Regions from separate parts of the Homo sapiens genome. Here all the other regions are linked to region 3. Evidence: fine-mapped expression QTL. A gene starts in region 3. Each other region holds a variant in brackets. All regions are shown on one strand. Distances are from middle to middle.

The links. PIP is the estimated chance that this variant, and not a neighbour inherited with it, causes the effect.
Region 1: its variant is the best candidate, but not a certain one, in a credible set for the expression of GALNT10 in whole blood (INTERVAL, PIP 0.60).
Region 2: its variant is the best candidate, but not a certain one, in a credible set for the expression of GALNT10 in whole blood (TOPMed, PIP 0.68).
Region 4: its variant is the best candidate, but not a certain one, in a credible set for the expression of GALNT10 in whole blood (INTERVAL, PIP 0.86).
Region 5: its variant is the best candidate, but not a certain one, in a credible set for the expression of GALNT10 in whole blood (INTERVAL, PIP 0.86).

The regions. Positions count from the first base shown.
Region 1 is chr5:154,427,779-154,432,881 of GRCh38, reverse strand. All of the region lies in intron 2 of SAP30L-AS1 (SAP30L and GALNT10 antisense RNA 1), which reads left to right. Among named protein-coding and RNA genes, the nearest start is that of SAP30L-AS1, 15 kb to the left of the region's middle. The variant TGTG/G (reference allele first, on the strand shown) is at 2,086.
Region 2 is chr5:154,270,206-154,275,308 of GRCh38, reverse strand. The region is part of intron 1 of GALNT10 (polypeptide N-acetylgalactosaminyltransferase 10); the gene reads right to left. Among named protein-coding and RNA genes, the nearest start is that of MIR1294, 74 kb to the left of the region's middle. The variant T/CCT (reference allele first, on the strand shown) is at 2,852.
Region 3 is chr5:154,188,187-154,193,289 of GRCh38, reverse strand. GALNT10 (polypeptide N-acetylgalactosaminyltransferase 10) reads right to left here and starts at 2,557. Exons shown (of 12, transcript NM_198321.4): 1 at 2,265-2,557. The coding sequence starts at 2,423. It overlaps LOC124901118 (a long non-coding RNA gene), which reads left to right and starts at 3,211. Exons shown (of 2, transcript XR_007059010.1): 1 at 3,211-3,294. RefSeq lists silencers at 2,262-2,321, 2,392-2,471, 2,562-2,671, 2,682-2,781, 2,872-2,961 and an enhancer at 3,182-4,147.
Region 4 is chr5:154,415,400-154,420,502 of GRCh38, reverse strand. GALNT10 (polypeptide N-acetylgalactosaminyltransferase 10) reads right to left here. Exons shown (of 12, transcript NM_198321.4): 11 at 4,571-4,720; 12 at 1-3,689. The coding sequence ends at 3,531. The region is part of intron 2 of SAP30L-AS1 (SAP30L and GALNT10 antisense RNA 1); the gene reads left to right. Among named protein-coding and RNA genes, the nearest start is that of SAP30L-AS1, 28 kb to the left of the region's middle. The variant T/C (reference allele first, on the strand shown) is at 3,188.
Region 5 is chr5:154,076,847-154,081,949 of GRCh38, reverse strand. No RefSeq gene overlaps it. Among named protein-coding and RNA genes, the nearest start is that of MFAP3, 40 kb to the right of the region's middle. The variant G/A (reference allele first, on the strand shown) is at 2,105.

The sequences.
Region 1 (5,103 bases), 240 kb before region 3:
TTGCACTTAAAAAAAATTCGTATGTTTTGAGACTGGTCTTACTCTGTCACCCAGGCTAGTGTGCAATGGCACAATCATAGCTCACTGCAGTCTTGACCTCCTGGGCTCAGGCAATCCTCTTGCCTCAGCCTTCCTAGTAGCTGGGACTACAGGCATGTTCCACCATATCTGCCTTTTTTTTGTTTTTTGTAGAGATGGGGTCTTGCTATGTTGCTAATACTGGTCTTAAACTCCTGGACTTAAATGATCCTCCTACTTCAGCCTCCCAAAACACTGGGATTACAGGCATTAGCCGCCGCACCCTGCTATATGGCACTTTTGAGATTACTTGAGAATGTGCATATGCACAGAGTGGTGAAGAAAATTCGAGTTGTCCAGCAGGCGCTGTCACAGACTGAATGTCTGTGTCCCTTCCTGAATTCATTTGTTGACATCCAAACCCCCAAATGGGAGATAGGGCCTTTGGTACGTGATTAATTCATGAGGATGGAGCCCTAATGAATGGGATTAGTGCCCTTATAAAAAGACACTGCAGAGCTCCCTCTTCTTTTCCACTGTATGAGGACATAGTGAAAACATGGTAGTCTATGAACCAGGAAGTGGGCTCTTACTAGATACTGACTCTGCTGGCACCTTGATCTTGGACTTCCCAGCTTCCAGGACTGTGAGAAATAAATTTCTGTTGTCAACCAGGTTAAGTTATTTTGTTATACCAGCCTGTAGACACACACGTTCACAGCTAAGGTCGAACCAGAGGACATCTGCCTTCTTGTTTCAGCTCTCATACTGTAAACAAGTGTCCTTTGGTGGTTTATTGAGTGCCACATTTTTCATATTTTTAAGCTTTTTGTTGGTGATTTTGGTTTACATGGTGCCCAAGCATAGGGCTGAAGTGCTGTCTAGTGTTCCTGAGCACAAGAAGACTGTGATGTGCCTTACAGGGAAAATATATGTATTGGAGAACCTTTGCTTGAGGCATGAGTCATAGTGCTATTGGCTGTGAGTTCAATTTAATGAATCAATGATAAATATTAACTAAGGTCTCTCTAAACATAAATGCATATAAAACAAGATTATGTATTGATCACTTGATTAAAATGTTGTGATCAGAGGCTTGCAGGAACGTACCCCTGTACTTCCCCTAGGGACAATAGTTCAGTATTCACTAACTGTGTTCATGGTGACTTACAGAACATAACTACCATGAACCATGACAATCGACTGTAAGTCAGGATACATGCCATGCGAGGAGCTACAGAGGTGCTGGAATGATTAAGAATGATGATGGGGGGATGTCTATTCTTAATAGGGTGGTCAAGGAAGCCTCTTGGGGGAGGTGACAGTAAAGCTGAAACCTAAAGGATGAAGCTGCAGAGCAGGGGGGAAGAGTATTCCAAGCTGAGGGAACAGGGTCCGAAGGTGAGAGAGCTTTGGACTCTGTGGGGAACTGGGGTCCTGCCAGGAGGTGATGGAAAAGTAGGCAGGGATCAGTCCCAACAGGCCTTTTGGGCCAGGCTAGGGAGTTTGGGTTTATTGTAAAGGCCTGGAGTAAAGTTACCTGTAGGCAGTGGTAATCAAGTTATTCTCTTTTAATTTGTGTGGGAACTCAAATCTGTTCTCATCACTAGGCCATAGAAGTTGCAGATCATCCCTTATGCACCTGGTATTTGCAGGGCCTAGGACAGAGCTGGGACCAATCACTGTGGGTACAAAATGCGAAACACCATGAGCCCAGGGTACCTATTTCAATCCGTGTTTGTTGATTAAATGACCAAGCCCTGGGATTCTGTGGCTGCAGCTGTGAAGAAATCATAGCAGAGATTTTTTCCCCAGATCCCAGAGAAACGCAGAATTCAGGCCTCTGCTTCCCAGGCTGACTGACAGGCCAGTGGTGTGGTGTGGGGGCTTAGCTCTGGGCTCTCATAAAGGCAGACCTGCCATCCTCTTCCTCCTACCCTCAGGCGGAAGCTGGCAGGAGATCAGACGATACTTGGATTCCAAGGAGTTCATGAACAAAGGCTGTAAAGTTGCTAAGAAACTGCCTTTCTGGGGGTTCACCATTTTTTTTTTTTGTTCCCGTGGTGT[TGTG/G]TGTGAGTGAGTGTGAGTGTGAGCACACCCAGGGCTGTCACTCTGCCAGGCCTGAGTGAAGTCACACTCGAAGGGAAGAACTGCAGGCTGCCGTGCAGGTGCAGCACCACCATGGACCCCAGGTGTCCCTAAGCTGGGCAGACCAGGCTTTGAGGATAACAAAAGTGGAACCAGCTGCCCGAGGCCAGAGGTTGGCAGAGCTGTGTGCAGCTGCAGCAGGGAAGCCTTGGATGTTGAGTGTTGGACCCACTTACAGCAAAAACCAAGAAGCCCTGGGTTGGGAGATACCAATAACAGAACTGGGAGGGAGTCCCACCCCTACCTCCCAGCTGAGCTTGGAAAGTAAATTCTTAACAAAACCAGGTCATTGCAAAATACAAGATGCAAGATTTATAGAACTCTAAGAGTCCAGGCTGACCATTATCTAACTTGCCTCCTTCTCCTTATTCTCATGTGGAGAATCCAAAGCCTAGGGAGGGGAAGGAACTCTCTTAATGGGATGTAGCATATATCAAGTGCAGGAACCCGGCCTATCAGAAGGGCTGTGGGCTGTGAGTGGAGGGAAAAAAGGCCTGGTGTGTACCTGAAAATATAGTACTCATCCATTTGTCCACTCATCAAGTACTTATTGAGCTTCTACTAAGTTCCAGGATCCCCTAAGCCCCAGTTCCAACCAAACAGAGAAAAGTAGAGCCCAAAACTTTGAGCAAATTGCTGGCTTCTCTGACTGTTTCCCAATAAGTGTGCCACTGCCAACCACCACCACCACCACCACCACCACAACAACAACAACAAAGCTCACACTCTGTGTCTAGCTCAGCATCTTAGATACATTGGATTCTACTCTCGCTTGCAGGCTTGGAAGGAGAAGGAGCTAAAATGGGTGAGAAATGTAATACCTACTCCCATTCTTCCACCAGCTCAAGGAAAGGATCTTGCCCCTAAGTGGTCAGTGTCTTTGAGGAGGCACCAGAGGTCCACTTGCCCTGGCTTGTTTCTCACTGTGTTTGCCCTGGGTGCCCATTATGTGCTAAGCAGTGGAGTAAGTCACTTCCTGGCTCCAGACATCAGTCAAGGGCATATCTGATAATCTCACTGTGCCCAGTTTTAAACCCTTTAATGGTTTCTATTACTCTTAAAATAAAGATCAGAGTCTCCTTAATGTGCCCCACAAGGGCCTATGGTGCTGGCTTTTGCCTACCCTCTCCCTGTTCTCCTCTTTCCTTCCTGTTCTCTGCTCCAGCCTGCCTGCCTTTCATGCCCGCCATACTCCCTCCATGGGGTCTTTGCACATGTTGGCCCCTGCACCTGGAATACTCTCCCCCTTTTGTTTCTTTTTTTCTTTTTTTCTAATAAAAGAATTTAATCTTTTTCAGGAAATGATTAAGCATTTTGGAAGTAAATATAGGTGAAAGTCTATCTTATTCATTGGTGGAAAAATATTTTTTAAACAAAACAAAGTTACAAAAGAAAATATCAATACATTTGGCCACATAAAATTTGTCCAAATAAACTTAAAAAATGCAAATATAGGACAGAGCTTTAACATCGACATATAATAAAACATTCTTGTGTATTGACCATAAAGGAACTAAAACTTTTAAAAATATATATTAAAAGATATAGGCCAGACCCACGCCTGTAATCCCAGCACTTTGGGAGGCTGAGTTGGGCAGATCACTTGAGGTCAGACCAGCCTGGCCAAAATGGTGGAACCTTGTCTCTACTAAAAATACAAAAATTAGCCAGGTGTGGTGGCACATGCCTATAATCCCAGCTACTCAGGAGGCTGAGGCACGAGAATCGCTTGAACCCAGGAGGCGGAGGTTGCAGTGAGCCAAGATTGTGTCACTGCACTCCAGCCTGGGTGACAGAGCGAGACTCTGTCTCCACCCCCACAAAAATAAAATTCACATACCATAAAGTTCACCATTTTAAAGCGTACAATTCAGTGGTTTTTAGTATATTTACAAAGTTGTGCAACCATCACCACTTCTTTTTTAATTAATTTATTTGTCTAAATTTATGGAGTGCAAGTGTCATTTTGTTACAAACATAGATAGATTACATAGTGGTAAAGTCAGGTCTTTTAGTGTATCCATCACTGGAGTAATATACATTTTGCCCATTAGGTAATTTCTCATCCTTCACCCCCTCCCAACTCCCACCCAATGGAGACCTTCTGAGTTTTCATCGACTATTACTTCACACATATTAATGTGTAATAATGTACATATTATTTAGCTCCCACTTATAAGTGAGAACATGCAACATTTGTCTTTCTCTGTCTGATTCGTTTATTTTGAGTTAATGGCCTCTAGCTCCATCCATGTTGTTGCAAAATACATTATTTCATTCCTTTTCATGGCTGAATAGTATTCCATTGTGTGTGTGGGTGCATGTGTGCATGTATATATATACACATATACACACACAATGGAATACTAGTATATGTGTGTGTGTATATATACACACACATGTATACGCACATACATGTATATATATATGTATATACAAACACACACAGGGTAGATACTGTTTTACATAAAGGTTATGCTAATTAACATTCCCACCAACAGTGTATAAGAATTTCCTTTTCTCCATATCCTAGCCAACATCTGTTATTTTTTTGTCTTTTCAGTAACAGCCATTCCGATTGGTGTAAGATGATATTTCACTGTGGTTTTAATTTGCATTTCTGTGATGATTGGTGATGTTGAACTTTCTTCATATTCTTGTTGGCCATTTGCTTTTCTTTTTTTGAAAAATGACTATTCATATCCTTAGCCCACTTTTTGATGAGATTGTCTGTTTGGTTGTTGAGTAGTTTGAGTTCCTTGAAAATTCTGGATATTAGTCCCCTGTTGGGTGTATAGTTTGCAAATATTTTCTCCCATTCTGCAGGTTGTCTGTTCACTCTTTTGCTATGCAGAGGTTTTTTTCTGTTTTTTTTTTTTTTTTTTTTGAGATGGAGTCTCGCTCTGTTGTCCAGCCTGGAGTGTAGTGGCGTGATTT
Region 2 (5,103 bases), 82 kb before region 3:
TCATTGTGAACTGGTGCTGGTCTGCAGACTACATTTTGAGAGGCATTGCTATAAAACATCTCTGGGCCAGACCCATTTTTATTCATCTCTGTATCCTCCCACGTGCTTTTTAGAATTCCTGGAAATAGGAGCAACTCAGTAAATGTTTATGAACTGAATAGAAGACCCAAAGAAAGCTGAGTCTGGAAGCTCAACTCATTCGTTTTATAGACGGTGATGTGGTAGTCCAGAGAGGTGAAGGAGTACACTCAGGGTCATGGAATGAGCCAGTGTCAGAACCAGGAGAAAGCCACAGAATTCCTGAAACCTTCCAATCCAGACGTTGGAAACTCAGCTGCTTATGTATGTTGTGAAGGGGGAGTGGCCAGGTGTAAGGCACTGCAGAAATATGATGGCTGGGGGAGAGGCGAGTGCATGCATGCCCATGTGAGGGGCAGCTGCTACCCCAGCTCCAGCCAACTGTTGCCAAGTGAGGGCCAATGGAACTAGATGTTCATTTTTCAAAGAGCAGCTGGAAAATTCAGATTTCTAGGGGCTATTTCTTGATTTTTAGTTTATTACATTAGATAAACAAACATGTTTGCAGGCTAGATTTTATCTAGCAGGCCACCAATTTGCAATTCCTGAGCTGGTTGAGTACCTGTAATTTACAGATAAGGAAAAATGAGGTCCTGAGAGGTTACAGGTTTCACCAAGAACACGTAGGAAGAGGTGGCAAGGCCATTTTCTGACTTGTCCAGGAATTTGGTGACGATGATGGTGACCCACATTTATTGAGCTCCTATCATGGGCAAGGCAATATACCAGGCACTTAGACCTATAGTTTCATTTAATCTTTTCAACAGTTGCAGGAAGCAGGCACTAGTAGTTCTCCTTTTTACAGACTCCAAGAAGCTAAGTAACTTGGCAAGATAGTAGCATAAGTAAGCAGCAGGTCTGTGTTCATAAGCATGTTTTTACAAGGGGAATGGTTTTCTATCACCTTACACCATTTCAATGTCTCTTTAGCATCCTACCTATCAAAGCCCCAGGTTCAGTTTTACCTGGAATTGTTGCAAAATCCACCTTCTAACATTGTCTATCATTTCAACCCAGAAGTAACTCAAGGTTGACCTGTTTCCTGTCCTCCAGAATCTGAATGACATTCAGCCTGTACACAGCTCATCCTCCCCAACTGTTGACTCTCCAAAGGGCCAGAGTGTGTCTGCAGCTACTGCAGTACAAGCAGCAGCTTAGGCTACAGGGCTAGAATGCCCTAGCTTTCTTTGCTAAATAGAAGGGAAGCATAGAATTGAAGAGGTGAAAGAGGCTCCAGAGAAATCATATAAACCTATTATTTTCAAACTACATTCAATGGATCTCTGGAGATGCAGCAACTGGGAGGCGGAGGGGGAGCCCGGCAAGAGGGGCCCCAATTTCTTCTTTGTGATACATTAATTAGGCTTTCAAATAAGATTATGTGAAAAGTGTTCCACTGCTTTAAAAAACAAGTTTGAAAACCAATGATCTAATCCAACTCCTTCACGGCATTTTTAAAATGCCAAAAACCCTATAATTTGATTTGCAATTATAAAAGTAATAAAGGCACATGGTGAAAGATGCAGCCAAAAGGGTACAATGAAAAATAAAAATTTCTCCCTACTCCCAACCCTTACTCTCACCCCCTAGAGATAACCACTATTAACAACTGCTTGTGTATCCCCTCCAGATTTTTTAATAAACAAACTGAGCCCCAGGGATTGGCTTGTCTGAGGTTATTTGGCCAGGCTCAGGGCTATTTACTGGACATTATGCTCCTGGCAACCCTCTCTCCTTTTATAACTTGCAAAAGTCTGAAATGTTTCCACAGATTGCAAACTCTCTCCCCAGTCCACTTGCAGCATGAGAAACCATACATTATGCATCTGCTGGCCTCACTCCCTGAACAGGAAGCTTACACGTCTTTTTCATGTGACTTTATTTCTCCACGATCTTTGTTTCATATGGTGGAGAAACCACCAGAATCAGGTTCTCAGTGCCGGCCAGTGTTCAAGCCAGGAGCAGCAGCTATAAAACTGCATGCTCAGCAAGTAACTGGGCCACTAGACAGGAAGTCAGGCTTGAACCAAATTCCTGCAAGGGGCCACACCTCTATATCTGTGACCTCAGAAGATCCTCCTCCAACAGCTTAGGTTCTTCTCTGAGTGCAGTGTTAACCTCTCCACTCCTCTCCTGGCTCTGAGGCCACTCTCTCCCTAGTCCCAGTCTTCCTGCCTGCCCTCTTGGCCTCAGCTGACCCCTCGCCCTCAGCATTCCCCATCTGCAGCCCCCTTTCCTAACCACCAGAAACTGCAGATCCACCTCCAGGCTGAGCCCATTTCCTACCGTCTAGAGTACACAATTCAAGGTTGCAGTAAGCTATGATCTGGCCCCTGCACTCCAGCCTGGGTGACAGAGTGAGACCCTGTCTGTAAAAAAAGAGTACATATAAGACAGAGCACTCCGAGCCTCTTTCTCCCATAGAGAAGACCTGAAATGCTAACACTTATTGGACTCTCTATGTTCCAGGCTCTGCGCTAGGCAATTTCAAGTCCTTATCTTCACCACAAGCCTAGAGGGTGGCACTATTATTATCGTTCCTATTTTATAGATGAGGAAACTGACATGGAAGTGGTAGCTGGGATAGGAACATGGAGCTGGCTAACGCAAGGTTCAGGAGGGATTTGCTCAAGTTCCTGATGCAGGTGAGTGGCGCTGACCCCCAGGCCTCTGATGTCTGCCCACTATACTCCATTACACTGCCCACGTGGTGTTCCTGGAGGGACAAAACACCCACAGGTAACCCTGGCTGACTGTTACCAATTCCCCTCCC[T/CCT]GTTATCCATAGCCTAGTTCCTTTTTGAGGCTCCTGAAGAGGACCCTGAGCCTAAAAGAAGGCCATAGATCTGGGAAGAAATTAATCCCACATTACTTGTCAGCAGTGGCACAGACTCCCTGCCATTACCTAGGTTACCTGACTGGAGTTTAAGCCACTACCGATCACTCCCCTATTTACCTTAATTAATCAGATTGGCATGGCTCCCTCAGGAGGGGTGCTCAGACCTCCCTGTGCCCCTGGGATAAGTGAGGAAGTTGGGGAGCGCTTCTTGGCGAAAAGACCTAAGAATTGCAGGGAGGCAGCCCTGGAGGCCAGGGCGGGTAGGAACACTAACAGAGGGGCCGCCTGCACCAGGTGGGACAGAAGAGGCTCATTCCCAAGGGTATTTACTTGCCAGGAAATATCAACTATCACTCAGAAGGCAAAAATATGCTGCCAGGCAAAGCATAATTATAAGTTGTATTATTTGAGCTATTCATAAGGAAGGCATGAGACCTGAGAAAATAGCTGTCTCATACGTGAAGGGCCTCATTTCATTTTGCATGCTTTAAAAAATTATGCAGGAAGGAGGCAGAGCAGCAGCTGGAGGTAGGGAGGAAAGCCTTTCCTCTGCATACTGCAGAAGGCTTATTTTCTAAGAAACACTCTATTGGATGACCTGAACCTCAGCGTGGACTCTACCTGCATTTCTGGCTTTTGACTCTTTCCTCTCTAGGTGTGCATTTTAGTTTCCTGAAGGAGTCACAGATGACTGGACATGTGGCATCCACTGGGACATTGTCTAAAATATGTCAAGGCTCAAAAGATGCAAGATTTATAGACATAATGACTTCTGCTTCCTCACCAGATAGAAATGAACACATAATGAGAAGGACAGACAGACAGACACACCCACACACAACCCCTTGGACTTAGAAAGCTTGAATGCAGCAAAATCATCTAAAAGAGGCTTTGGCTCTATTATTTTTATTTTATGTATTTATTTTTTGAGACGGAGTTTCGTCCTTGTTGCCCAGGCTGGAGTGCAATGATGCAATCTCGGCTCACTGCAACCTCTCCCTCTGGGGTTCAAGCGATTCTCCTGTCTCAGCCTCCCAAGTGTCTGGGATTACAGGCACCCGCCACCACGCTGGCTAATTTTTGTATTCTTAGCAGAGACGGGGTTTTATCATATTGGTCAGGCTGGTCTCGAACTCCTGACCTCAGGTGATTTGCCCACCTCAGCCTCCCAAAGTGCTGGGATTACAGGGCTTTGGCTCTATTATTAAACCCTTACAGCAAGCACCACCAGATCTACATACAGCCCCAGCCTCATTTACAGGACTCAAATATCTGTCCAGGCTATTGTTTCTTTGGACATACTACTTGTCCACTTTATCCTTTTTTAAGGCATCCAGTGGGCCACACAAGCAAATGAATTTAGACTGGCCACTTGGTATCCCTTTTTTTTTTTTTTTTTTTTTGAGATGGAATCTTGCTGTCACCCTGGCTGGAGTGCAGTGATGTGCTCTCGGCTCACGACAACCTCTACCTTACAGGCTCAAGCGATTCTCCTGCCTCAGCCTCCCGAGTAGCTGGGACTACAGGTGTGCGCCACCACTCCCAGCTAATTTTTATATTTTTAGTAGAGATGGGTTTTCGCCATGTTGGCCAGGCTCCTCTTGAATGCCTGACCTCAGATGATCTGTCCATTCAGCCTCCCAAAGTTTTGGGATTACAGACATGAGCCACTGTGCCCAGCCAGGAGTTCCAATTTCACAAGTGACCCTGAACATGGTGTGTAATGACCAGGCCTCAGTCTCTTCATCTGGAGAAGAAGGAGGATACTTCATCCAGCTGACTGGAGGATCAAAGGGCAACATGCATAGGAAAGCGTTTTGTAACGTGAAGGACCATGCACATGGAAGTGCTCATCATCGTCCTCTGAACTGGGTCACCCGTGACACCAGTGGTCTCATGTTGTTCAACCAGGGATGCAGAAATCACTCCATTTGCCTCTTATTGTTCTGTAAAAGGCCTGTCAAGCACGTGGGTCCAGGCCATCTCCAGCCTGGCCCTGCCCTTGTTCTTAAGCAGAATGATGCTAACTTTGATTAACCATATAACTGGGTATCCAGTCACACAATTAGACTACATAGAACTAAGTAAAATAATAGAGCTAGATCTAGTATGCATGAGGAATGCCTACTCTACTGTTCCAACTTCAGGGCACACCGCAGGAAATAGATGTGTGGGTATAGGCTGAAAGA
Region 3 (5,103 bases):
AGCAGATGAATGCTGAATCCTGTAGCACCTAGAAGAGCTTATCATTGGGGAAACAGCTCCATTCTGCTGCTCCCATGAAGCAAAGAGATTTTCTTTAAAGCAAGAATAATCAGTTGGTATTCCCCCCAAACCCCCAAACCCCCTTCACCACTTCTTCCTCCTCCTCTTCATGCTATTCCAGAGAAAAAGAAATGAACAAAAACTAGATCTTCCCAGATGAGCCTGTCTATCCATTTCAGTTAGGGGCTCTGAGCAGCACCCAGCTGTTGCTCCCCTCTCTCTCCCTGCCCAAAAGTCTGCCTTACTCTATCAATACCCTCTTGCACAAGTGAGTAATTTACTTTGAAAGCTCAGGCCAAACTGGCAGTTAACCTTGACCTTCTCTACCCATCTGGGTCTACAGAAATGAAAATCAGGATGTCTTTGGCATCTATTGCAAATGAAATACGAGGTCTTTCTCCAAGCAGAGGCAGAATGTCAAGCACTATTTTAGAATGGGCTACAGCTATTCTAAAGGAGAGTTTGCACTAGGGTAGGACACTCCCCCTTGACCTGGAGCTGTGTCCAGTATGGAGCCTCCACAGCTAGGGATGCTACAAGGAACTCTGGACTCAAGACAGAAAAAAAGAAGGGACCGTTGTATTCCTCATTGATTAACTGATAGTATCACAGAATGTTAGAACTGGACCAATAATCATGGTTTACAGACCAAGAAAGTAAGGCTCAGAAAAGGAGATGAAAGGTGATCAAGGACACACACAGTAAGTTAGTGGTAGAGCTGAGGTCAGAACCCTGGAACTCCTGACTCTGATGCTGGTACTGAATAGGAACAGAGGAAAGAGATTTCATGAACGGAAAATCCATACAGATACAGAATTTCAGGGAGAGAGGTCTAAGCTAGCTGTCAGGGTTTGAACCAGGGGTTTAGGAAAGAGATGGAAACCTTAGTTTCTAAACAGTAAGCTCTACCAGAAAGATCAATGAGACCCTCTGGGATGCTTTGCAGCAATTAACAGAGTTACAGGCGGAGCTCAAATTGGTCAGCTCTGTAGCAAAGAGCCCTCTGTGCTCCAGATGCCAGACTGCCTAGACAGCAGCCTGATACTGGGAAGAATAAGGAAAACCATCAATCTCAGAAAAGCCAGCCTCTTTCGTCGAGGCCAGCCAACAGTCAGTCAAGTCTGACCCTGATACACAAATTATCCACTTCTCATGGGACCAGAGAAATCCCGTAAGAAAGCCTGAAATGTTCCACTATATGAAACAGTCTAAGCAATACACTCACTAGCACCTCCTGGGAGGGTGGGAGTGATGTGACAGAGCTTCTGCTATGAGGGAGCTGCTAGTCTAAATGCGTGCACGCACACATACACACAAACATACGTGGGTAAGTTCAAAGGAGGCAGAAACCATTCCGATCCCAGTTTTGGCTGCAATAAACACTACAACTAACCAGACTAGACAAGTTCAGAAGAGATAGGGAAGGCTTCTGGTGTTCCATCCTCAGGACACTGGGCACCAATAGCCTCTGGGACATTTTGGGGGTCCCCCCACCAGAGCCCCACCTCTGGACTCCCATAAGGTCAAAGGCAGCAGGTCCCTCAAGGACCAGGAGCTTACCCCCTTCTCCACCCCCAGGGGCTTGAAGCTTTAAAGGGAGCATGATCTTTACATTCTGCAAGGAATCCACAGGATCTGAGAAAGGAAAAGGCTAGAGTTGGGGCGGGGGTGTTGAATAAATGGGGAGAGGAGGAAGGCCCGGGTGTCTCGTTGGGCAGATGAGAAATCAGGAAAAGGGCTGACCTGAGCAAAGAACACTGGGATCAGCAGGTAGGGGTTGTGGGGGGGGGGGGGTGGGAGGAGGGAAGCAGAGAGGACCTGGACACCAAATAGAAGAACCAGAATCTTCATTCCTATTGGCACAAGGCAGGAGTCATCCTGGGATACAGGGATGCAGATAGGATCCTTCAAAAGAGATCCGCTGGAAGACGTCAAGGAATACCAGACGGGGACAGAAAGGAAGGTGGTAACATGTGGTGAGAAATAGCGTCCTGAGTGCTAGTTCGGACTCAGTCTCTGACTGGCGTGGGACCCTGGACAAGTCCCGACAGGACTTAATTTTCCCATCCGGAAAATGGGAAGAGCTGAAGAGTCTCGGAGCTGACTCTGAGGAGGCAGACAGCAGAAGGTGGAGGAAGGAACCACAGGCTAAAAGTGAATTCGGGAAGGGGGTGTTCCCGGCCTGTAGCAACGGGGGGACTCACCTGTCCCGCCGCCGGCGCCACCGCCGCCCCCGATCCCCCAGGGGTGCCGTCGGGCTGCCGCTCGCGGTACAGCGCCCAAAGCCCCACGTTGGGCAGGAGGACCAGGGCCGCCAGCACCAGCGCCACCGCCTGCAGGAGCCGCTTCTCCTTCCGCCTCATCGGGGCCGGTCAGCCCCGCCGCGCCCCGCCGGCCCCGCCGCGCCGCCCCCAGCTCCGCGCGTCCGCCCGTCCGCCCGGCGGCGGCAGCAGCTCAGCCAGCAGAAGCGGCTGCGGCGCCGGCCCCGCTCCAACTCCGCGGCACTTCCGCCGCTCGCCGGCCGGGGAGCTGGGCGCCGCCACCACGCCGCCGCCACGAGGGGGTCGTCGCCGCCGCCACCGCCCCCGGGCCCCGCCGAGCCGCCCGCCCCGCGCCGCCTGCCCCCGCGTCGACCGCCGAGTCTCTGCGCTGCAGGCTCGGCCCTCTCACGGAGCGTCTCGGCCCGCCCGGGCGCTGCAGGATGCCGGGCCGGAGCGCTTCCCCCCTCTCGAGCCGCGATGGTCCGTCCCACTCCTCGGCGGCTCCCCCGCCCTCTGGAGCTTTGCGAAAGTCCCGGAGTTGGCGAGTTGGGCGCTAACTGGTGCGGGCTGGGCACCGCTGGGTGGGGTGCATGTCCGCTCGCCCGGGTACCCTGCCGCCCCGCCCGGCAACCTCCGCCCGGGACTGCAGCCGAACCTTTGCTGCCTCCCTGGGGATATGCAAATAGTGCTGGGGCCCCGCCGGGCGTTCTGAGCCTGGAGCCCCCGGGGCTGTCACTTCCAGCCCACCTAGGCTCGGCCCCCAGGACCTGCGGACCTACTTTGACCCCGGCGACTCGGTGTTCCCGGCCATGAAACGGGGCCACAGCCGTGCTGCACGCTCACTGTTCCGCGGGCGGGCCCTGGTTTTCTTCCTCTAGGGGGGCCCTGGCGTTAGGTGTGAACGCCCTCTGCAAACTGTAGGGAGCTGTGCCCGGCCGCCGCCCGTCTGTAGATCCTGCAAACCGGCGGGTGGGTAAGTGACGGTAGCCTCTCTGCAGCACCTTTCCTCACGCAAGTCCAACCCCCTTGGAGTTAGAATGCCCTGCATTCTCACGCGTGCTTTTGGATCCTAAGCGCACTGAGCCCTTCCCGGAAAGCTCTCAGCAAACCGTTGGCGAGCGCCACTATGTGCCAAACACTGTGCCAGGCTCTGGGATGAAATGAAAACAGACCTGAGCCCTGACGTCTGGGAGCTGAAACATGAAACACGTAATTTCACTAGACCAGGCAATGTGTCTGTAACTGTGGCGAGGGCTTTGACAGAGGAGTCGGGCTTCTGGGCGATGCGGAGGGCCGTGGAGCCGGACTCCGACGGTGATGCCAGCCAGCGGCTCCTCCTCGGGGCGCTCGACGCTGGTCACTTAGCTGCCTCCTCCCTGATGCGGTGGAACGGAGCACCCCCTTGGCTACCTTACTCTCTGCCACCCCCACATTCGTCCTCTTGATTCTCTGCTTCTCTAGCTCAGCCGCTGACCTTCGTGCCTAGCTGCCACTAGTCCTTGACCAGCGTTCTGGCAACTCTTGCCTCCAAGTTCTTCCAGCTCCAGGCTGAGCGATGGGGATTCAGTTTTCTGACATCACAGCTCAGTTCTTGATTTCTGCAGCAAAACCTTCAAGGCTTCCATCACCTCGGCTCTAGAGTCCATCATGCTCCTCTCCTATGACCTGCTAGGGCTGATCAAACGTTCTGTCTCCTGCCGTGCCCTGCCCTGCCCTGCCCTGAGCTTCGCTTAGCCTGTTGCAGGCTTTGTGTTTTCCTTCTTGTGCTGTTGACCACGCAGCTCCTTCTACCCATAAAACCCCCTTCTCTAGGTCGGTGGAAATCTTGTTCATCCTTCCGTGTCTAGTTAAACTGCCACCTCCTCCACGAAGCCTTCTAAAACTCCTCCTCAGGGAACTGTTTTCTTTCTTTAGATTTCCATCACAATAATGCTTACCTTTTATTGAGTGCTTACTCTATGTCAGGCAGCCCTTGAGATGCATTACCTCTTTAAATGCTCACAGTTACCCTGTGAGGTACATGCTTTTCTTATACCCATTGGCGAATGAGAGTCAGATTTAAAAATGCATGTAATCCCAGCACTTTGGGAGGCCAAGGCGGGCAGATCACGAGGTCAAGAGATCGAGACCATCCTGGCCAACATGGCGAAACCCTGTCTCTACTAAAAATACAAAAATTAGCTGGGCGTGGTGGCGGGCACCTGTAATCCCAGCTACTTGGGAGGCTGAGTCAGGAGAATCGCTTGAACCCAGGAAGCAGAGGTTGCAGTGAGCCGAGATCGTGCCACTGCACTCCAGCCTGGCAACAGAGCGAGACTCTATCTCAAAAAAATAAATAAATAAATAAATTAATTAATTAATTAAATAAATAAAAGAATGTGGCAGCCAGAATGATCTTGTTTTATCCAAGGTTAGATTGTATCGCCCCTCTGCTCAAATCCCTGTAGTGGCTTCCCACCTCTCATTAGGTTCCTAAGAAAGTACAGGACCCTACAAGCCCATATGTGATCAGCTCTCACTCCTTACTGTCCTTATTGTGCCCCAGTGACATTGGCTTCCTTGTTGTTCCTCAGAGCATCCCTCAGGCAGGCACAGTCCTGCCTCAGTACCTTTGCACCTGTTGTTACCTCTGCCTAGAATGGCCATTTTTCTATTTCTAGCTCCTAACTCTATGTCTTTTTTAAACACATTTTTTTGTGATAAACGTTTGTAAAACTGATCATTTGAACTATTTTAAAGTGTACAATTCAGCGGCATTATGTAAATGCACATTGTTCTGCAG
Region 4 (5,103 bases), 230 kb before region 3:
CTAGGAATTACAAAAGATCACCCAACTGTACAAACTAGATATCGCTGAAGCAGAGACTCTGATTCCTCAGTTACTACTGTAAAGTGCTTTGCCACTCTTTTTGAGACTCCAGAGACTAGGAAAATGGAGATGCACAGAGAGACATAAGGAGCTGTTTTCCAAGACATCACCTGTTTCTTAAGGAAAAAAAGAAATTCAACTGGTGGGAAGTTTGAAAAGTGAATGTCATGTAGACTTTGGAAATCCATTTGTTACATCTTTAACAGAAACTGCTCTTTCTCTCCTGGACCGAATGTCACATCCTCTCGTCCGATTCCTCCTGTGGATGTACCCCGTTCTGCCTGAGCATTTTTTCCTAAAGGGAAGAATCAATAGTTTCTGACTGTTTTAACAGCTGAAAGCTCCAACTGGAGGCAGAAGATGGGATGGCTTTTCACACACGTGCGTGCAAGTTTAGCCACCTCCAAAGGCCTTGTTCTTAAAGCAACAGTGCTGTTTGCATTATGAAATGTCTCTGGAGTTCCCCTTTGGAAAGGCTGCTGGTGGGCCACATGGTCACGATACTTTCAAGTCACACCCTACTTTGTGACCTTATCCTCAGAGTAAAGGCTTTAGAGGAAAAGGGACCCCACAGTCTCACCCATTACCTGGCTGTCAGCATCTCCATATGCTCCTGGCTGAGTTTTATTGAGCATCAGCTGGGGATGTGAGCAGAAACCTGAATCCTTGAGACAGGTGGTTTTCAAAAAGGAAGCCATAACAATGAGTGGCTTAGTACTGGCAATTGATCAGTTGGTCCATGAAATGGAGCCAGTCAAGTTCTGTCCTTCCTTCCCCTCCCACATACTTTGTCAAGTCCCAGGACCTACTGATATGGGCTCAGCAATGACAAATGCCAGAGTGCTCAGAGGACACACCCATCCCTTTTCAGGGTGTGAACCCAGACTGGAAAGGAGAACCAAAGGATGGGAAAGGCAGGCCCGGGACGGCTTGCTGCTGCTCCTGCTTTCACAGGAATCCTGGTCATGCCAGGAACACTGCCGCCCACTTGGGGTGGGACTATGTGGAAGTCTAGCTAGTGCTCGGCACCCCTTAACCCAATGGTGAGAAACAGGACAAACATGCTGGGGGTTCAGAGGGTGGACCGCAGGGATGGCCCCCAAACAGGTCCCAGTGAGGTAATGCAAGGCCTCCTCTCGGGGGCTGATGAGGTCTTCTAGGCCACAGACTAAACGCACTGCCCAGCCTTTAGTTTGGAGTGTGACTTGCACTGACTGAAATAAATCTGACCTGTCACCCTTGGGGGACATCTCAGTCTCAGATCTTGCTCCAGACCCAACATCTCCTGCTTGAAATGAGACATTAAGAAACACACACTCATCCAGTAGGAACTGCACACACCACCAAAAACGTTCCCCTCCCCACAACCCTGCCCCTTTATGTTTGTCTAGCAAGGCACTAGGAAATGGTTCAAGTTTAGGGATTTGCTCTATATTTGCATTTTTCTTTTTAAAAGGCACAGTTTTTATTTTAACGACGCTGCATTGCTCTTTGATGATGAATCTCAATTCGACTCCTCAAACTGTCAACACTCTTGTTATCCTAGATTCTAGAAGGGGCCTCATCTTTTGACTTCTTTCTATAGAGGGCCACTTCTAAAGCTACAGCACTCATTTGGAAAAGGACACTGGGATCAACACGTAAGCGTTGCAAGCACAGGGGCCGCCTCTCTTGCAGACAGGTGGCCAAAGCAGGGCTTGTGCTGGGCCAGAAGTGGAAGTAATTCCTCGCCAGCTACACATTCAGTCTGACTGGTGGATGATTGGGAGTGTTTGTCCCTCCCTCCCCCAATAATTGATGGCCTTGAGATCTGCCAGCATCTCAAAGGCAGATTCGTGGCTCTGTTCCCAGACTTAGGTCTCAGTTATTTAATTGGTAAATGACACAATCAAGAGACTCAACACTAATTGGAATGCTGATTTCAAGTATTTCCTGGGCTAGCTGGTGGAAGCCATAGATTGTGGAATGTGATTTCCATTTCTGAATCAGTGGGTGGCAGGTTGGTTACAGAAATGCTTCCTATTAGTCTGGAGGCCCTCTAGGAGTCTGACATGTAATTAACAAAGCAAAAGGTAAACATGAAGGGCTGGCATGGAGCTGGGTGTATATCTGGCTGTGGGACGTCGGGTTCTTTTCTCCACTGCAAATGAGACTACAGTTGTGATGATGGTGGGAGGTTCCAGGGGTGCAGGTCTTCACCAAGGACCATGTTGTACCACAGCCTCTGCTGAGCTGAGGGACACATGTCCCCCTGCTTTCCCAACACCACCAACTTTGGATTTCACAGATTGTCTCTAGGCTGGGGGCTGCCTTGACTGTATTACACCTGGCTGGCTCCTTTAATCACAGCATTCTAGAAATCCATATTGGATGTGGAATACCAGAATCCTATGTAGCATCCTAGTTTGCAATCCAATTATAGAGTTCTTTAAAAATTCTGGAGTTCTGTATGAGAACTAGAACCATGATGAGGTCAGAGGCAGGCACTTTGCCCACAGTTGATCCTGGAGGCCTCCAGACTCTGTGAGGTGAGCACCTCGCAGCACCTCTGTTCCTCTTTTGAGGCCAGTAATTGCCTGGGGAAGAGAGACAGGGAAATGGAAGCATGGATCAGGGCAAATCAGCCAGCATTTCTAGTTTGGAGGTCTACCTGGCCTTTTCCGTGGGCTCAGGGCCATCTGAAACACTGCCCTGTAAAGCTGGTGCTGGGCTGTCCTTGTGCCTGGAGAGTGCTAAAATTGACATTTCAAATACCCAGAGAGCAGGGGGAGATATCCCGCATGTCCATAGCTGCAAAGAAATGTCTAGGGGGGCTCCCTCTTCTGACTCCTCACCTGGCAGCTGATCAGCATTCAATACTGAACACTCTTAGGGCCCCAAGTATGGCCTTTGACCGGACCAAATCACCTGGGGTTGTGACAGAGAACAGAAGCTGTGCAGTAACTGCAATGTTCCCCCCAGGACGGCAGAAACTAAAAAGCCCCAAGAGGACTTCTTTCTCTTCTGCTGCAGATGAGTGGCATCGATACTAAAAGCTGCCCCAAACAGGCAAATTTTACCTTTGTTTCTAAAGCACCATCATGTAGGAGAGCCATCTGAGGGCTGGGCAACCTCGCAGGACTCACTT[T/C]TGGGTGGCCTAGGCTACCTTGGTGTTCTCCCACATAATGTTCAAGGGGACATAGTGACAAAGTTGAAAAGGCTCTGTTGCTTTTCCGTGATGTCAGCAGGGATTAAAGCAGTCTCTGCTCCCTGTGGGGCCTCTTGTGGGATATGCTCTTCACCCTACCCCCACAACTCAGGGGCTCAAGGACCAGGCAGACCCCAGCCCCTGAATCAAGAGCCCTCTTCACCCTGAACCATTTGGCCAGCACCTTTTACACCTAGTGCCCACAGGGGCCCTGCCTCCCTTGAAAGAGGAAGTCTGCAGTGAGTGCCAGACCCTGGGGGGCCTGCCAAGGGGACATGAGGGCTCAGTTCCTATTGAATTTTTCCAAGACTGTTGAGTTGGTGTGTTCAAACAGCCACTGCTGGGTGAGAGAGGATGGGTTGCAGGTGTTCATGAAGATCCTATGGTCACTTTCACTGCAGTCCATGCAGCTGCCACTGACAGGGTGGTACAGGGTCTTGTCCTACAAAACATGGAGGTAATAAGCCAGACAGCACTGGAGACATGTGGCCAGTCAAACCACAGCAACAATACCAGCAATGAGAAAGTGAGGAAGTGACTGACTGACTAGCTGTTCATACACCTGTTGGTTTTCCTCCTGAGCTCACAAGCCGGATGCTGCCCAGCCTCCCTTGCAGCTGGTATTGCCGTGGGACTGGGTTCTGCCCGCTGGGATGTGGCCAGAAGTGATGCACGCAGCTTCCAGGCCTGGGACCTAGACACTGCCCACCTCCTGTCAGACCTCACTGGTCCTTATCGTGTGTGTGTGTGTGTGTGTGTGTGTGTGTGTGTGTGTATGTGCTTTCCTTTTATCTTTTATTTTTTTAATTTTTTTAATTTTTTTGAGACAGGTTCTCACTCTGTCACCCAGGCTGGAGTGTAGTGGCACAATCTTGGCTCACTGCAACCTCTGCCTCTCAGGTTCAAGTGCTTCTCCTGCCTCGGCCTCCCGAGTAGCTGGGAGTACAGGCATGAGCCACCATGTCTGGCTGATTTTTGTATAGAGACGGGGTTTCACCATGTTGGCCAGGCTAGTCTCGAACTCCTGACCTCAGGTGATCCACCCACCTCAGCCTCCCAAAGTGCTGGGATTACAGGCATGAGCCACTGTGCCCGGCTGCACTTTTCTTTTTAAATGGAATCAGTTGCCAACATTTAAGACTTGAGGATTTCACAGTGAAGTCTAGATTTCTGACTACTCTTGAATGACTACAAAATCCGGCATGGTAGGTTTGTGGCACAAATGAATAAGTGGATGGGCTCTGTTGAAAGAAGGGGTGAAGCACTGTATTGCCTTAAAAAAAAATTAAGCAGGTGCCCTGCTCCCCCCGCATCCCATCTTACTTTGCGGTATTTCCACAGCTGGTTGCCCTTCATGCTGTGGCAGTCGTACAGCGTGACAGGGCTGGTGTGGGAAATGGCATCAAAGCAGAACTTCTTGGTGTGCTGGGGGTCTCCAGGCCGGATGTCCTCTCTCCAGGTGAAGGTGAATACCTGTGCACAGGGGCATCATAAATAGGGATAGCAAAGCCAAGGACTTTCTTTTTTTCTCCATTTTTTTTAAATTATGGAAAAATTTAAACTCAGAGGTCCAAATAATAATATATTAACCTGTTCTAACCACCTAGCTTTAAAAGTTACTAACTTGGCCAGGTGCGGTGGCTCACCCAGCAGTTTGGGAGGCCAAGGTGGGTGGATCACTTTGAGGCCAGGAGCTTGAGAACAGGCTGGCTAACGTGGTGAAACCCCGTCTCTACTAAAAATACAAAGATTAGCTGGGTGTGGTGGCGTATGCCTGTAATTCCACCTACTCGGGAGGCTGAGGCAATGAGAATCACTTGAGCCCAGGAGGCAGACGTTGCAGTGAGCCGAGACTG
Region 5 (5,103 bases), 110 kb after region 3:
CCAGCCTGATCCCATGGGGAGCTCTGGAGTGAAAATTCTACCTTAGACCTGGCCCTGACTTGATGCAAGAGAGCTGGGCTTCCATAGTCCTGCCCTTGTCAGTACTGGCTTTGAACACTTTCAGCTCTCTAAAAGTGAGGGCAGAGCAGATCCGGCAGCCCCAGGGCAGGCCTCTGAAGAAAGTCACAGATGTGAGCCATTAGGAGCGGAGCACACAGAAGCTGGCAGACGGATCACAGAAGGGGTAAAGGGGATCTGAGGGGCACTGGTTGGGGCATCGATAGTGCCCACTACAGATGGGGACTCCCTGAGGACAGAGGTTTGGGCCTTGCAGATGACTTTTGCTTCACAGTGTGTGCAGAGCCTGTGGGAAAGAATTTTAATCAAGACAGAGAACAGGTTCTTAACCTGCTCCTTGCTGGCAGTGGTGGCTTTTGGCCACAGATGTCTCCATCAGCTGCCATTAGGAAGGGCTGACAGATGGTTCAAATCTCTGTGGATGCCTGGGGAAAAAGGATGCATCATTTTGACCACGTAGGAATTCTTGACACACAATGAGGAATGAAATATGAAGATGTTGTGCGAGGTCCATGCCCCTATGATCTGACATGTAGGAGAAATTCTTGCCCCTTGCCTTCTCTTACTATAAAGTTTTCCTGAGGCTACATGTGAGGAAGTGCACAGAAAAGGCCTGCAGAGAGTCAGACCTCTGTTCCAATCTGGGCTTTACCCCTTACTAGCTGCATGAATTAATCTTTCTGAATCTCAAGTTCCTTACATATAAAATAGGGAACAATTATACCTATACCTATTAGGGCTGTATTGATGAGAGAAATGAAATGTTTTTGAATTTCAGTTTCTTAATCTATACTATAAAGTGTAATAAAATTAATAAATGATGATGATAACTCCTTCTCAGGATTGATGTGGGGTAAAAGAACTAAATATAGCAGATTAATAGGATAAGTTATTGCACCTGGCCTATCCTGGGCATCCTCTACCCCACAACTTTTTTTAAATGTGAGAAGAATGGGGTTTTCCACTCTTGCTGCTTCTAGTCAGGTTACTTTTCATATAGGCTTGGCATCCATTTGCAGTGCTGCACCTTGTAATTTTTCATAAAAATCCTTCTCTTTTTTTTTCCCCAGCCATCATGAGGTATGGCCACAGCTGTCTCTGGGTGAGCAGACACAGAGCCCTCCAAAGGGAGAGAAAACCCATCAGAAGGCCTGCTGGGCCCAGGTGGAATCGCTGTGAATGAGGACATGTCAAAGAACTTATCTTTCTCCTGTAAACACCTTGGACCAACCCAGACCTGTTTAATTTCTAGGCAAGAAGCACAAATTGAATCCTGCACTACATGCATTTATCTCCTCACCTTTTTCGGCAGGAATCTAGATAGGAATTAATAGACTCACTCAAAGAGGAAAAGACATAGTGGGTGCAGTGGAGTCCTTTGTCTTTACGGGGCTTGAAAGGGTGGATCTCTAACACGTCTCATTTAATATTGGCTCGAGTTAAAGTATAGTAAATTCCAGGCCAAGAAGAAGAAACTAGGATGCCACAGAATGTTAGAGATAATTTAATTTAAACTCCTTACTCAATAGATAGAGAATCTGAGCTCAGGGAGGGGACAATCTGTCCACAGCCATATACCAAACTGCTGCTGGCTGGGCTGAGGGCTACGACACCTTACTCCTGGGCCAGTGCTCTGGGCAGGGCTTCCTATCTCTGTCATTCATTTCTTTTTTTTTTTTTTCTTTTTTTGAAATGGAGTCTTGCTCTGTTGCCCAGGTTATAGTGCAGTGGCACGATCTCAGCTCACTGCAACCTCTGCCTCCTGAGTTCAAGCAATTCTCTTGCTTCAGCCTCCTGAGTAGCTGGGATTACAAGTGTGCGCCACCACACTCAGCTAATTTTTGTATTGTTAATAGAGATGGGGTTTCACCATGTTGGCCAGGCTGGTTTTGGGCTCCTGACCTCAAGTGATCCTCCTGCCTCAGCCTCCCAAAGTGCTGGGATTACAGGCATGAGCCACTGCGCCTGGTCTCTGTCATTCATTTCTGTACCACGGTCATGATTTGTGTCATATTTACACACCCTC[G/A]GCACCATTATTAACATGGTCTTAATATCTGAATCGACTGTATTTTTTTATCCTTAAATAAATTTCTTTTGAAAGGAAATTGCTGTGAAGAGAAAACAAGGATTGTTTTCCACAAATAAAAGGTGACCACAAAAAATACATGCTATGAAATGAAGCAATACATTTTAAATATATTAAATTTTAAATATAATTTAAAATTTAAGTTTAAAAGTTTAATTTAGAAGTTAAATTTTAGCAAGGTACTGCTGTGTGTGAAAAGACTGTTCACTCTCTCTGTTAAAAGGGAGATTTGTCATGTTAAAGTGAACTTGAAAGGGAATGGCTTTCTCACCATAGGAGAGGATGTTTCTTAATAAGGTGTTTATGAACCATCTAAAATTGTCTCTCATATCATGAGTGGTCAAGTTGATCAGGAAAGAAAATGTGTTTGCAAACTTCCAAGGAAATGTAATACTTGACACTACTTGGGTTAGAATCCCAACTGTGCCATTTACCAGCCACTGGATCTCCAGCAAGTTATTTAACCTCTTTCTGTCTGTTTCCTTACTCATAAAATAGGAATAATTGTGTATATCATGGATTTATTGCAAGTACAAATAAGATATACATATAAAGCCATAGAACGGCACTCAGCATAGAGTAAGCACTCAGCACCACGTATTCTTGTAATTATCATTATTAAAACTTAAAGTGGTATTATGCCCTAGAGCAGGGTTGCAACCTTTTTCTGTAGAGGGTCAGATAGCACATTATTTTACCCTTTGCAGTCCATACAGTTTCTGTTGCAACAATTCAATCTTCCATAGTTCCAAGGAAGCAGACATATTGCATACATATATTAATGGGCATAGCTCTGCTCCAGTAAAACGCTACCAGAATAGGTGGCAGGATGGTTTTGGCTGGTGGGCCATGGTTTATGCTACAGGGATATAGTTATGTAAAACAAAAAACAGGCCAGATGCTTTGTACACTATTTTCGAATGAGGTAGCGTCATACTTCATACCTTAGCCCAAATCCCAATCTTTTGAATTCAATCCCATGCACCTGAAACGTAGGTTCTAGTCCAGAAACTTTGGTCTCACTACCTGCTATCATCTTAACTGCTGCCCAAATGGCCATGAGACTAAACAGCTCTTGAACTTGAAGCAGAATAAAGGTTAAAAGCATGGGCTTGGGAATTAGAATGACTTGGGTTTGCTGCTCACCCTGCAAAGGGTATTATTTTCTTTTTACACAGGAGGAAATTGCAGCTCAGTGGGGTGGAGTAATTTGCCCAATGTCACATAGCCAGCAAATTGACATCAGTTCCACAAACATGAAATTTGGTTCTAATCCAAAAACCCTGGGGCCAGCTGCATGTCATCATGATGCTTCCTTTTCTTGTTTCTAATTTCCATGATAAAGAGGGGGAGAGCTTGAGAAGGATTTAGAGTGGGAAATAATGCCGATGGCTTAGGACAACATTTTGATCAATGGAGGAAGAAGAATGCAGTCCCCAGAGACCATAAGATATAACTGAAAGAGCACAGGGCTAGATCTGCTTCTTCCCTTACCAGTGAACCCTGGATGTGTACCTGGGCAAATGTAATGATAAGAGGCAGCATTTATTGAGTTCATATGGAGTGCTTTCTAATACCTTTATCTTATTTTCCCTTCACAACAACTCTGAGATTTTAATCCCCATTGCACAGATGAACAAGGTGAAGCTCAGAAAGGTCATTTAAATTCCCAGGGTCATAGAACTAGTGAGTGGTGCAGCTGGGATTTGAATGCTAGTCTGTCTGGTTACAAGTCCAGGTTTTTCCAATGCAAAACATCCTCAAGAGTCTACTTTCCTGCCTAGGTGAGTCCACAAATGAAGTTGTACAATGTATGCTCTGTAACTTTAGAATTGGAGGTGACTCACGTTGCAATCTTACCATGTGCTTGGCAATGTGCAAGGCCAGTCCTTCCAAATGACCCTGTGAACTCAGTGCTAATAGTATTCTCTATCAGTAGATTTGGCAACTGTGGCTCATAGACCTTAAGTAACTTGTTCAAAGTCATTCAGCTAGTAAGAAACAGGCTGGGGTTTGAACCCAGGTCAAATCCACTTCAAAGCCTGTGCTCCTAATAGGATGACCAAATAGTTTGTCACCCAAACCAGGACACTTTTGAGAGTGAAAGGCACTATTAATAATTATGTCAAGACAGCAGGCATAAACTTCAGTTCTTGACTACTGTGCTTATCCAAATGGGCTCTTTCTATCCCTCAGACCACCATGAATCATAACGTGGAGAAGAAACCCATTACATCTGGCACCACCATCATTTTCATTATTACCATTTACCTAGACAGCATTGTAAGAAAGAGGTAAAGTCCTGTGGGAATGAGGCATTTGAAACTTGGTGCTTGAGAATTTTAGAAAGGGGTGAATGTAATTGCCTCGGGAGTTGCTATAAGAAGCAGTAACAGGGCAGCTGGGACCCTCCTCGCCTTTCCTGCACTCTCTTGACTGCAGGCACTGGGTGGAAAGGAGAGATGGATTAAAAGAGAGCTCCAAGGAAATGGAGATGAATGCCTTTAGATTTGGTATGATAAGAAGAAGGGCATTTCTCAGATACATAAAAGAGACCAGATCATTATCAAGATAGTGCTTGAAAACACACATACCTCTAACCCAGGACTAGTATCACATGGTGGCAATGGTGGTGGTTGTCTCAACTGTACTCTTGGAGGTGTGCTGGGAGGATTTTCTGCTTCAGAATTCCCAGAATTCTACCTTAAGTGCCTTAACCTTCGAGTAAAGGTTCATTTCTCTAGGAGATCAGTTTTAAAAAGAAACCACCATAGAACCATTTGAGTCCACTATCAGTCATGAACATGGGGGAGTTTATTACATAGCAGACTTTCTTTTGAATCTTACAGTTGTTTAGGATGTTGGAAAGGTGAGTTTTGATAGAGAAATGGGCATAGGGGAAGCTTTGGGACCTGGGTTTTTGCCTAGAGAAGGCACCT